2 separate regions of the Homo sapiens genome follow, and region 1 is linked to region 2. The links come from fine-mapping of genetic effects on gene expression. A gene starts in region 2. The other region holds a variant in brackets. All regions are shown on one strand. Distances are from middle to middle. Region 1 has its middle 20 kb from the start of LINC02413. Region 2 holds the start of EEA1 (early endosome antigen 1).

The links.
Region 1: its variant is fine-mapped to the expression of EEA1 in fibroblasts (GTEx, PIP 0.95).

Annotation. Positions count from the first base shown.
Region 1 is chr12:92,968,079-92,973,571 of GRCh38, forward strand. No RefSeq gene overlaps it. Among named protein-coding and RNA genes, the nearest start is that of LINC02413, 20 kb to the right of the region's middle. RefSeq lists enhancers at 2,684-2,753, 3,234-3,283. The variant G/A (reference allele first, on the strand shown) is at 2,984.
Region 2 is chr12:92,926,917-92,932,171 of GRCh38, forward strand. It overlaps EEA1 (early endosome antigen 1), which reads right to left and starts at 2,379. Exons shown (of 29, transcript NM_003566.4): 1 at 2,127-2,379. The coding sequence starts at 2,150. RefSeq lists an enhancer at 539-668 and a silencer at 1,769-2,848.

The DNA.
Region 1 (5,493 bases), 41 kb after region 2:
GCTTTCAGTAGACAATCCTGTCTTATTAGGATTTAATAACACTGTTTTGCTTTCGTTGTGATTAGTTTTACAATTACCTTCCCTTTCTGACAAATGACACCAGTCGTGTAACATATTGGTGGAGCACATGGCAGCTTGCTTCCCCCAGAGCAAGCGCTGGGGAGTGGGGACCCATGATGGAAGTGAGTCTTTTTATTACCTAATCTCAAAATGACATCCTATCACTCTACCATATTCTATTTGTTAATAGCAAGTCATAAGTTGAGTCAACACTCAGGAGAGGGGGATCACACAAGGACATGAATACCAGGAAGCAGTGATCATTTGGGCCATTTCAGAAGTGTTTGCCACAGGGATATATTGCAATTGCTGTTTTCCTTCTTTTCTCCAAGAAATAATATGCTCCATGGGAACAGAGATAGTGTCTTGTTCATTGGGAGCATTCCTAGCACTGGACATAGTGCCTGAGACTTAAACTGCTCATAAATGTTTCTTTGAAGGAAACGAAAAAGGAAGGGAGGGAGGAAAGGAGGGAGGGAGGCAGGAAGGAAGGGAGGAAATGAATCAGCATGAGAAGATCAGGGCACTTTGCTAATCCATAGAAAACAGGAGATGGTTCTTTGGGGAAGGAAAACTCAACCATAAAAAGGATTGTGAAGAACAGAGTCAGTACTTTTATTTATTTCCTAGTCTTGAGCATAAATGAGCTTCTAGGAAAGTGGAAGCACTCTGTGAAGAGACAACGCCCACCATCTTGCTCCCAGGGTAGCTTCTGTGGATGGTGGAGAGCTGAGCTATAAAATAGCACAATGTGTTACCCATGGAAGGGCAGTCCTGGTTGAGGTTCTTAATTGTGAATGTACAGATTCTGTTGAATGAATTGTGATAACCTCCAATTATCAGGAAAGAATCAATTAGGGAGAACTCCTTGGTGCTTTTTTTCACTTGCACTTGCAGAGTGCAGCAAGAAGTTACACTGAATGCACATAGACTGCTAGACTGCTTTGGCATTTAAAATTATAGAATAAACATATCACTTTGTTAGCATAATTCTTTTTGTGTGTGTTGTGGGGGTGACAGCATCTTACTCTGTTGCTGTGGCTGGAGTGCAGTGGCACGATCTCGGCTCACTGCCTCAAGGGTTTCTTGAGGCACCTCGACCTCTGTTCAAGGGTTTCTCCTGCTTCAGCCTTCCGACTCGACCTCTGTTCAAGGGTTTCTCCTGCTTCAGCCTTCCGAGTAGCTGGGATTACAGGTGCCTGCCACCATGCACTAATTTTTGTATTTTTAGTAGAAATGAGGTTTCACCATCTTGGCCAGGCTGGTCTTGAACTCCTGACCTCAAGTGAGTGATCTGCTCACCTCGGCCTCCCAAACTGCTGGGATTACAGGTGTAAGCCACCATGCTCAGCCTTTGCTAGCATAATTTTAATGGCTCCATAATATTTAATCTAACAGATATGGCACAAGCTGTTTGGTCATTACTCTACTGTTGCATTTATGGGTTGTATCCATTTTCTTCTTTTTTTTTTTTTTTTTGAGACAGAGTCTCACTGTCGCCCAGGCTGGAGTGCAGTGGCGTGATCTCAGCTCACTGCAACCTCTGCCTCCTGGGTTCAAGCGACTCTCCTGCCTCAGGCTCCCAAGTAGCTGGGATTACAGGCATGCGCCATCACACCTGGCTAATTTTTCTATTTTTAGTAGAGATGAGGTTTCACCATGTTGGCCAGGCTGGTCTCGAACTCCTGACCTTAGGTGATTCACCCACCTCGGCCTTCCAAAGTGCTGAGATTACAGGCATGAGCCACCGCGCCCGGCTGGGTTGTATCCATTTTCAACTGTTATATAAAATGCTTCAATAAATGCTTTTGTAAACTTATCTTTCCACAATTGTATAAATATCTCCTTAGGTTGAATTCCTAGAAATGGAATTGCAGGGTAAAGAGTATGCACTCTGTGTGTGTGTGTGTGCATATGCATTTGTGTATACTGTCAAATTGCCCCCAGAAATTACGTATAAACTTTCATTCCCAATTTATAGATGTTTATACACATTTGATGAGACAAGATTTTAGCTGGGCTGGGTGCAGTGGCTTACATCTATAATCCCAACACTTTGGGAGGCTGAGGTGGGAGGATCCCTTGAGTCCAGGAGTTTCAGATCAGCCTAGGCAACATACGGAGACCCCATCTCTCTCTCTCATTCCATATATATATATATATATATATATTTTTTTTTTTTTTTTTTTTTTTTTTTTTGAGACAGAGTTTTTGCTCTTGTTGCCCAGGCTGGAGTGCAATGGCGTGATCTCCGCTCACTGCAACGTCCGCCACCCAGGTTCAAGCGATTCTCCTGCCTCAGCCTCCTGAGTAGCTGGGATTACAGGCGCCTGCCACTGCACCCAGCTAATTTTTGTAGTTTTAGTAGAGATGGGGTTTCACCATCTTGGCCAGGCTGGTCTTGAACTCATAACCTCATGATCCACCTGCCTCGGCCTCCCAAAGTGCTGGGATTACAGGCGTGAACCACCGCGCCCGGCCCCCGTCTCTATATTTTAACTTTTTTGTTTAAAAAACGTTTTAGCTATTTTTTTAAAGTTGCCAATCTGGTAGCTGAAAAATAATAACTTATTGTTTTGATTGTATGTTATAGTCATTAATGCTCCCCCCAAGCACATGATAAGATTTAATTTTATGAGCTGGGCATGGTGGCTCATACTTGTAATCCTAGCACTTTGGGAGGCTAAAGCAGGCAGATTGCCTGAGCTCAGGAGTTTGAGACCAGCCTGGGCAACATGGCAAAACCCCCTTTCTACTAAAAATACAAAAAAAATTAGCTGGGCGTGGTGGCACATGCTTGTAGTCCCAGCTACTAGGGAGGCTGAGGCACGAGAATCGCTTGAACCTGGGTGGCTGAGTTTGCAGTGAGCCGAGATCACACCACTGCACTCCAGCCTGGGCAACAGAGCGAGACTCTGTCTCA[G/A]AAACAAAAACAAACAAAAAAGAGATTTAATTTTATGGCCCTTGAGGTTAAGCGGGGCCATGTGACCTGGTCTGGTCATTGAGTTGTGAATAGCAATGGTATGTGTCACTTCTGGGTTGAGCAAGACCTTTCAGAGTTCTCTTTCACTTCTGCAATTGATTACCAACAATGTTTCAGAAAATGGCCTGGGTCCCATAATTGATTAACATAAACATACTCTGTTCAGTTTGATAGAACAACATGGAATAAAGACTCTAAGTAAGGCATGATGAGTATGAACAAAAAATATGACTTCTTTGTTGTAAGCCACTGAGACTTAGGGTTGAGCGTTATGGCAGCATTATCTACACCATCCTGACTAATACATTAAACATCTTTGCTCACTACTGAGACTAAACATATTTTCCTGTATTTATTGACCATTTATTTGGACTTCCCTTTTTGTGAATTTTCTGCTCATGTCCTTGCATGTTAATTTTTTAAACATATGACGCTCAGCTACACATTTGTTAAACCTGGACCTGATCATCACTGAGGTATCAGGGAGAAAGATGAAGTCTGTGAACTAAGAAAAATAGATGTATCACAATAGTCTCTAATACCCAGGGCAAGATTTCTCCAATCTACCTTTAAGGATCTGAAAATCCTTTGCCACAAATTGTTTTTTTTTAAAGCCATGTGCTTTCATTCAATGATAATGTCAAAATTAATAGAAGCATATTTTGGATCATTTGAATGGTCACTTTATAACTGAAGGATGTTATTTACTTTTATGATCAAAATGGTTTCTTATGGGCATCAATACCACTACTTTTATCCACACAGACTCATAAGAAAAAAACAAATGTGAACATAATACATAATGTAATGTTTTTGCACCAAGTGAGGGACAAGTGGTATTTCAGCATATTGTACACAGTAAGATCAGAGGTTGCACAGCAGAATTACTAAAGAAAATTGTGGGAGCATTGGGTCATCCCACAGTCTGCAAGCAGGCTCAGCTCAAAAGAATCTGGCCCAGAACACAGCACCACTTTCACATTGTCACTTATCTCAGTTATGGTCCTTTGCTTGCAAACAACAGACATAGATTCTGACTAATTTAAGCAATAAAGAACTGATTGGAATAATACAAGAAAACACAGTATTCAAGCAACAAAAAGAACAAATCAGGCTCAAAAAGAACCAGACTAGGGGATCTCCAGGGGCTTCAGTACCAGAAATTCCTGAATCAGTACATTTTGGATGCTGCCAAGAAAATGACTCAATGACTCAATCCAGTCTTCTTTTTTTTTTGAGACAGGCTCTTGCTCTGTTGCCCAGACAGGAGTGCAGTAACCCTATCATGCCTCACTGCATCCCTGAACTCCTGGGCTCAAGAAAATCTCTTGCCTCAGCTTCTTGAGCAACTAGGACTATAGGTGCATGCCACCACGCCTGGCTAGTTTTTTAAAATTTATTTTTTGTAGAGACAGGATTTCGCTAAATTGCCCAGCAATCCTCCTGCCTCAACCTTCCAAAGTATTGGGATTACAGGCATGAGCCACAGTGCTGTGTCCATCAACCCCAGTCTTCTATCTGTGTGTCTTTATGTTCTAGATTCAAATTTCTGGCTTCATTTGGGTCATATGCTCTTCATATGAGTGGGGTAGGGGGAGGATGTTTGAGACTTCAAAATACTCAAGACATCTGGATGCTTAATGAAGAAAAAAAGTTGTTACAGTGGGGCACAGTGAGTTCACACCTGTAATCCCAGCACTTAGGGAGGCCAACACAAAAGGATTCCTTGAGTTCAGGAGTTCAAGATCAGCCTGGGCAACATGGCAAAACCCCATCTCTACAAAAATACAAAAACTGGCCATGCATGGTGGTGTGCACCTGTAGTCCCAGATACTCGGGGGACTGAGATGGAAAGATTGCTTGAGCCTGGGAGGTCGAGGCTCCAATGAGGTGAGATAGCACCATTGTACTCCAGCCTGGGCTGAGATCCCGTCTCAAAAAAAAAAAAAAAAAGTTTATATATCTCAAAGAATGTGTGAGATATTAAGGGTCACTCCTAGAAGGTATATGGGATTTAATCCTTCCTGAACAGAAGAGTGGATGGGACCTTTTTCTTATAAAGACCTTTTCTTTTCTTGCTTTTTTTTTTTTTTTTTTTTTTTTTGAGAGATGGAGTCTTGCTCTGTCACCCAGGCTGGAGTGCAGTGGCGCAATCTCGGCTCAGTGCAACCTCCACCTCCCAGATTCAAGTGATTCTCCTGCCTCGGCCCCTACCAGTAGCAGGTACAGGCGTGCGCCACCATGCCCAGCTAATTTTTGTATTTTTAGTAGAGACGGGGTTTTGCCATGTTGGCCAGGCTGCTCTCAAACTCCTGACCTCAGGTGATCCACCCAGATCGGCCTCCCAAAGTGTTGGAATTACAGGTGTAAGCCACTGCGCCCAGCCCATGTTATTTTATTTATTTATTTATTTATTTAAGACAGGCTCTCACTCTGTTGCCCAGGCTGGA
Region 2 (5,255 bases):
TTAAATGTTCACCTCCCAAACAGCCTGTGAGTTCTAAAGGGAGGACCCACAGCTTAATCAACTGTTTCCTACCCCTTAGCATGAAGCCTGGCATTTACTGAAACTCAATATAAATACACTGAATAAAAGAAAATTAAGTACTTAACTGTGAGAAACACTTCAAACTTTCCTACTAAAGAGTTAATGCATTTAACACAGTGATTCTCAACCAGAGGCAATTTTGCCCCTAGGGGACATTTGGTAAAATCTGGAGCTATTTTTGGTTGTCACAAGGGGGAAGGGATATAGGGGAATGCTACTGGCATCTAGTGGGGGTAGATGCCAGGGATGCTGCTAACATCTTACAAGGCACAGGGCAGCCTCCCACAACGCAGAATTATCCAGTCACAAATGCCAATAGCGCCGACGTTAAGAAACTCAGTTGTCAACTGACTTATTCAGAAGTGATGATTCAATATCACATCTCTGCAATAACCACAATCAATTTCACTTTTGTAGTTTCAACAGAAGCTTCTTTAACAGTTGATAGGTATGCACCAACATTAAAAATGATCTTCATATAATCTCGATGTTTAACTTTAAACCAAGATTACTAGAAAGCATCCCATATTTCTGAAAACCAATCTATAACTACAGCTGAGCTACCCTTAAACCAGTAAACACTTTTATTTGTAAACTTCAAAGCAAACCACAGGCAAACTAATTTTCACTTGCAGAACTATGACAGAAACACAATCTGAAACATGAGGTAATCAGTTCCTCCAGGTCTGATAAAAGAAAAATCTCCTAAAGCCTGAAAGTAAATCATGCACAGATGTCTTTACTGCTGAACTAAGGAAGTGATGGGGAAAGTAAAGGACATGCCCTTGTTACTGCCAAAATCATCGCTTACCGGGATTTCAAAATTCACAAAACACTGCAAAATACAATTAAATGTCAACACAGGTTGTCAGATAAAGAAGTTAACTATTTCTCCCTCTAATAACTGACCAAGTTTCACATGACTTCATTCTTTCAGGAGAAAGCTAGGCAGAAGCAAGAGCACTCCCTTCCTATCTACTGGATGACTCAACTCTCTTCCGCACATTCCTCGGCTGAATCCTACAAATTCACTAATTTCTTTTGTCCTTTGAACTAGTTATCCTACTCCCTCGGTAAAGAACTAATAGGCTCGGCACCTACTTTTCAATCATTTACATTTTGTTACACCCTATCAGCCTCAAAAAGAAAAGAAAAAAGCTATACCAAAAAAAAAAAACAAATTTAAGTTGACAGGTACAATAACTCTTACAGGAAAAGAGATGTGAATTATGTTATTCTAGTAACTGATTCTTAAATGATACACCTACAGTTTTCTAATGCTCTAATCTTTCTATCCTCAAGGTTTTCCAGATTTCAGAGACAGCACAGGCAGAAACTAAGTGTATATACCACTTGATCAAGCTTACTGCGGATTTATTCTTGGATAGCTAAAATAAGGTAGTGGGGCTTGCACAGAAAACATATTTTTAATTAAAAAAAAAGTTTCCAACAGTGAGTAACATCTTCCTTCTCGGCTGACTGTGCCAGTGTCAGTCCCACGCCTGGGCCCAGGCTAGGCCGGGGCTCACCACACCACCCTCCACTGTGGTCCAAAGGAGAAAGCAGGGCCGTGTGTGGCAGGTGCGCATCGTGTCAAATTGGGGGGCACGGGGAGTGCGGCGGGTGGGGAAAGGCGAAGCAAGCCGCCCGAATCTCCCATGGGGCGTTCTCCAGCCCGGCAGGCGGCGGCTGGCCCGTCCCACGGGCACCAACTCTCCATTTTCACTCCCACTCAGGGTTCCCGGGAGGAACGCGCCGGCACCACACCCTCCAGCTCGCAGCCCGCTCGCACACACGGAGCCCCGCGCCGGAGCGGGCGCCAGGCCTGGACGCGCGGGGCCACCAGGGCTCTGCCTGCCGCCCCGCCGCGCCGGCCCCACCCGCCCTCCCCGCCCCCGGGCCGGGCGACCGAGGCCTAAGCGCCTGCCGGGCTGTGGGGCCTAGGGAAGGAAGGAGCCCGCGCTGAGGAGGGGCGCCCGCGCCGCGGCCCCGAGCTCCGGCTGTCCCGCTCACGTGCTGCCAGAAAGACGGTTTCACTCTCTTACCCTCTGTAAAATCCTCCTTAACATGGTTTAACCACCACCCGGCGCCGCCGCGGTGACTCTCCAGACCCTGCGCGGGGCCACTCACTACTCGGGGTGCGCGGGCGGGAGGGACTGGGCCGGGAGGGGACCGGGAAGGAGGTCGGGGCGAGGCGGTGGCGACGGCCGCTCGGGCGGCCCCGACTTCCCCACAGGCGGCGAGAGGGAGCACGCGAGAGAGAGCGAGCGAACGACTAGGCAGCCTGCGAGCGCCTCCAGCCCGCCCGCCGGGCAGCCCCCGTAACTGACAGATGGGCGGGCCCGCCCGCGGCCGCCGGGGGGCGGGGCGGTGGCGGGCCCGCCCCTCGCCTGTCCATTCGCGGGAGGCGGGGCTGAAGGGGGCCGGTCCAGGCCAGCGACCAATCGGAAGCGGTGGCAACGTGGGCGGCTGCGTGACAGACAGGCGGCAGGACGCTGTCGCCGCAGCTTCTTCCGGCTAGCTGGGGGACGCCGAGGCTGCGGAGTGCACGCCTGGGCTCCGTCAGAGGGCCGCGCCCGCGCGACGACCGCGTGCCCGCTAGTGGGAGGCGGGCGAGGACCCCTGGGGGTGTCCCTCCCTGACCCAGGCGGGAGGAGGGGACGCCTTAGGCTGTTTTGTAAAATGTGTCGGTGTGACCCTTCCGGCGATGGCTCCTGACTCGACGTGGTATTGAGCCTGAGCTATATGCTAGTTTCTGCTGGAAACGCTGACTCTGCCTCTTAGCCCCTGGGTTGAAGCCGACTAGAGAATCTCAGACGTGCTTAACCGGTCTGTTGGGCTTCCCTGCCCTTTTCCAGTCCCAGGTTTCCTTTCCCTGCTCCCTTCCTGCTTCTAATTTCAGCCAAAGAGAAAGCAAAGATTTAGAAAAGAAGGGTAGGAAGAAGCTGGAATTTGAATTGGCAAGAGAAGTTTGAGGTTGTCTTTTCTAGATCAAAACAATTTTTAATAGGCTGATGTTCACATGTTGCACTTTCTAAAGCCCGTGCTTGACCTCCTAAGGAATTTTAAGTCCTATTCTGATAATCGATTTATGAAGTAAATTGTCATTAACGCCTCTGTTTTATAGATTAAGAAGAAAATGAGGTCACAGATAAATATCGTGCCAAAACGACGTGGTCTTTGAACTGACCTCCAGGCACGATGTCATTATTTAACTCGAGAAATCACAGCTTCTGCGTCCTACCATTCTGCCAATATTCACAGCCAAGAGGCTCAACTTAACACCCTGGTAGAAAAAGAGAAGCCTTTAATATTGCTTGAATAGGGAAGGAGAGGGAATAATGGAACTAACCTTGCTGGGAGGGAAAAAAAAAAAAAAAGAAAAAACCAACAGACCACTGAATGAAGCCTATGAAGCAATGAATGGAGTGCTTTTTGGAAAGCACTTCCAGATCTTTTGAAAAGCAGCACAAAATTAAATATTATTTGCAAATCAGTTAATGAATAGGAAAATGTTTTGTAAAGTATAATGCATTATATAATGTAATATGATATTTCTATCCCAAATATATTTGGTTTTTTATTATGTGTGTGTGTGTCTCTCGATGGTGCAGCAGCACGGTCATGCCTACAGCTAATATATGAGTAATCACTAGTGATAATGCACTTACAAAGAACATACTTTTCCATCTTTCTAAACATGAGGTGCTTTATTTTCAGACAATATGGGAAACATTCTCAGCGACATGGGGTGATAAAAGTGACTTTTTTTCTCTTTTTTGTTTGTTTTTCAAAAATTAGTTTAGGGTCAGGCACACTGATTTTATGCCTGTAATCCCAGCACTTCGGGAGACGGAAGCAGACAGATTGCTTGAGCTCAGGAGTTTCAGACCAACCTGGACAACATGGCAACAACTCGTCTAAAAAAATATTAGCTGGGTGTGGTGGCATGCGCCTGTGTTCCTAGCTACTCAGGAGGCTGAGGTGAGAGGATCACCTGAGCCCAGGGAGGTTGAGAATGCAGTGAGCTATGATCTCACCACTGTACTCCATCCTGGGTGACAAAATGAGACCCTGTCTTTAAAAAAAAAAAAAAAAGTTTAAAACTGCTTATTAATGTTACATGCTAAGACCTTCTTTACTGGAATTCTCATGTAGAATCCTTTGAATAATATAATAGGCTCTCATCTACAGCTGAGCTAGATGGATTATTGGAAAATCTGTGTACTCCCCTGCACAGTTCATGATAACTCCATCACTGGGATAATACACTGGAGAACTTAATTACTCCAAAAGAAAATAAGCAGTGGGTGAGAGCTAACCATGTAAGAATACCCTTCACTAATCTAGCAGCTTCCTATACATAGCAGTTCTGCTTACCCTGTCTGACCACTAATTCCCATCCGTTCAGCTCTTGTGCATTAATATTCCCCCACCATCTATTTACTTTGATCCCCAGCAAGACCTCAAATCCATTGGCCCTTCTTACTTTCTTAATATCAGTCATTTCCCTAGCCTACTCGTTTCCATCAAAACCCAACCTAAAGCCCATGGTCCAACTTTACAATCTTCCCTTTGCAAATATGCTTAACTTCTTCACCTTTCTTTTTTTTTTTTTTTTTTTTTTTTTTTTTAGATGTAGTCTGTCGCCCAGGCTGGAGTGCAGTGTGCAATCTCACTGCAATCTGTGCCTCCTGGGTTCAAGCAATTCTCCTGCCTCAGCCTCCCAAGTAGCTGGGACTACAGGCACCCACCACCATGCCCAGCTAATTTTTTGTATTTTAGTGGAGATGGGGTTTCACCATGTTGCCCAGGCTGGTCTCAAACTCCTGAGCTCGGGTAATCCACCCACCTCTGCCTCCCAAAATGCTAGGATTACAAACATGAGACACCATACCCGGCCACTTCTTCACCTTTCTCTTCCTCCATTGCTTTTGTCTAGCAGAGGCCAAACCCTGGTTAAGTTCAATTAACCACCTACTCTCTGCTGCACAGGATCCATAGGAATAGAAGGCTGGGCACAGTGGCTCACACCTGTAATCCCAGCACTTTGGGAGGTGAGGGGCGTGGATCACCTGAGGTCAGGAGTTCAAGACCAGTCTGGTGAACATGGTGAAACCCTGTCTCTACTGAAAATACAAAAATTAGCCGGACGTGGTGGCGCACGTCTGTAG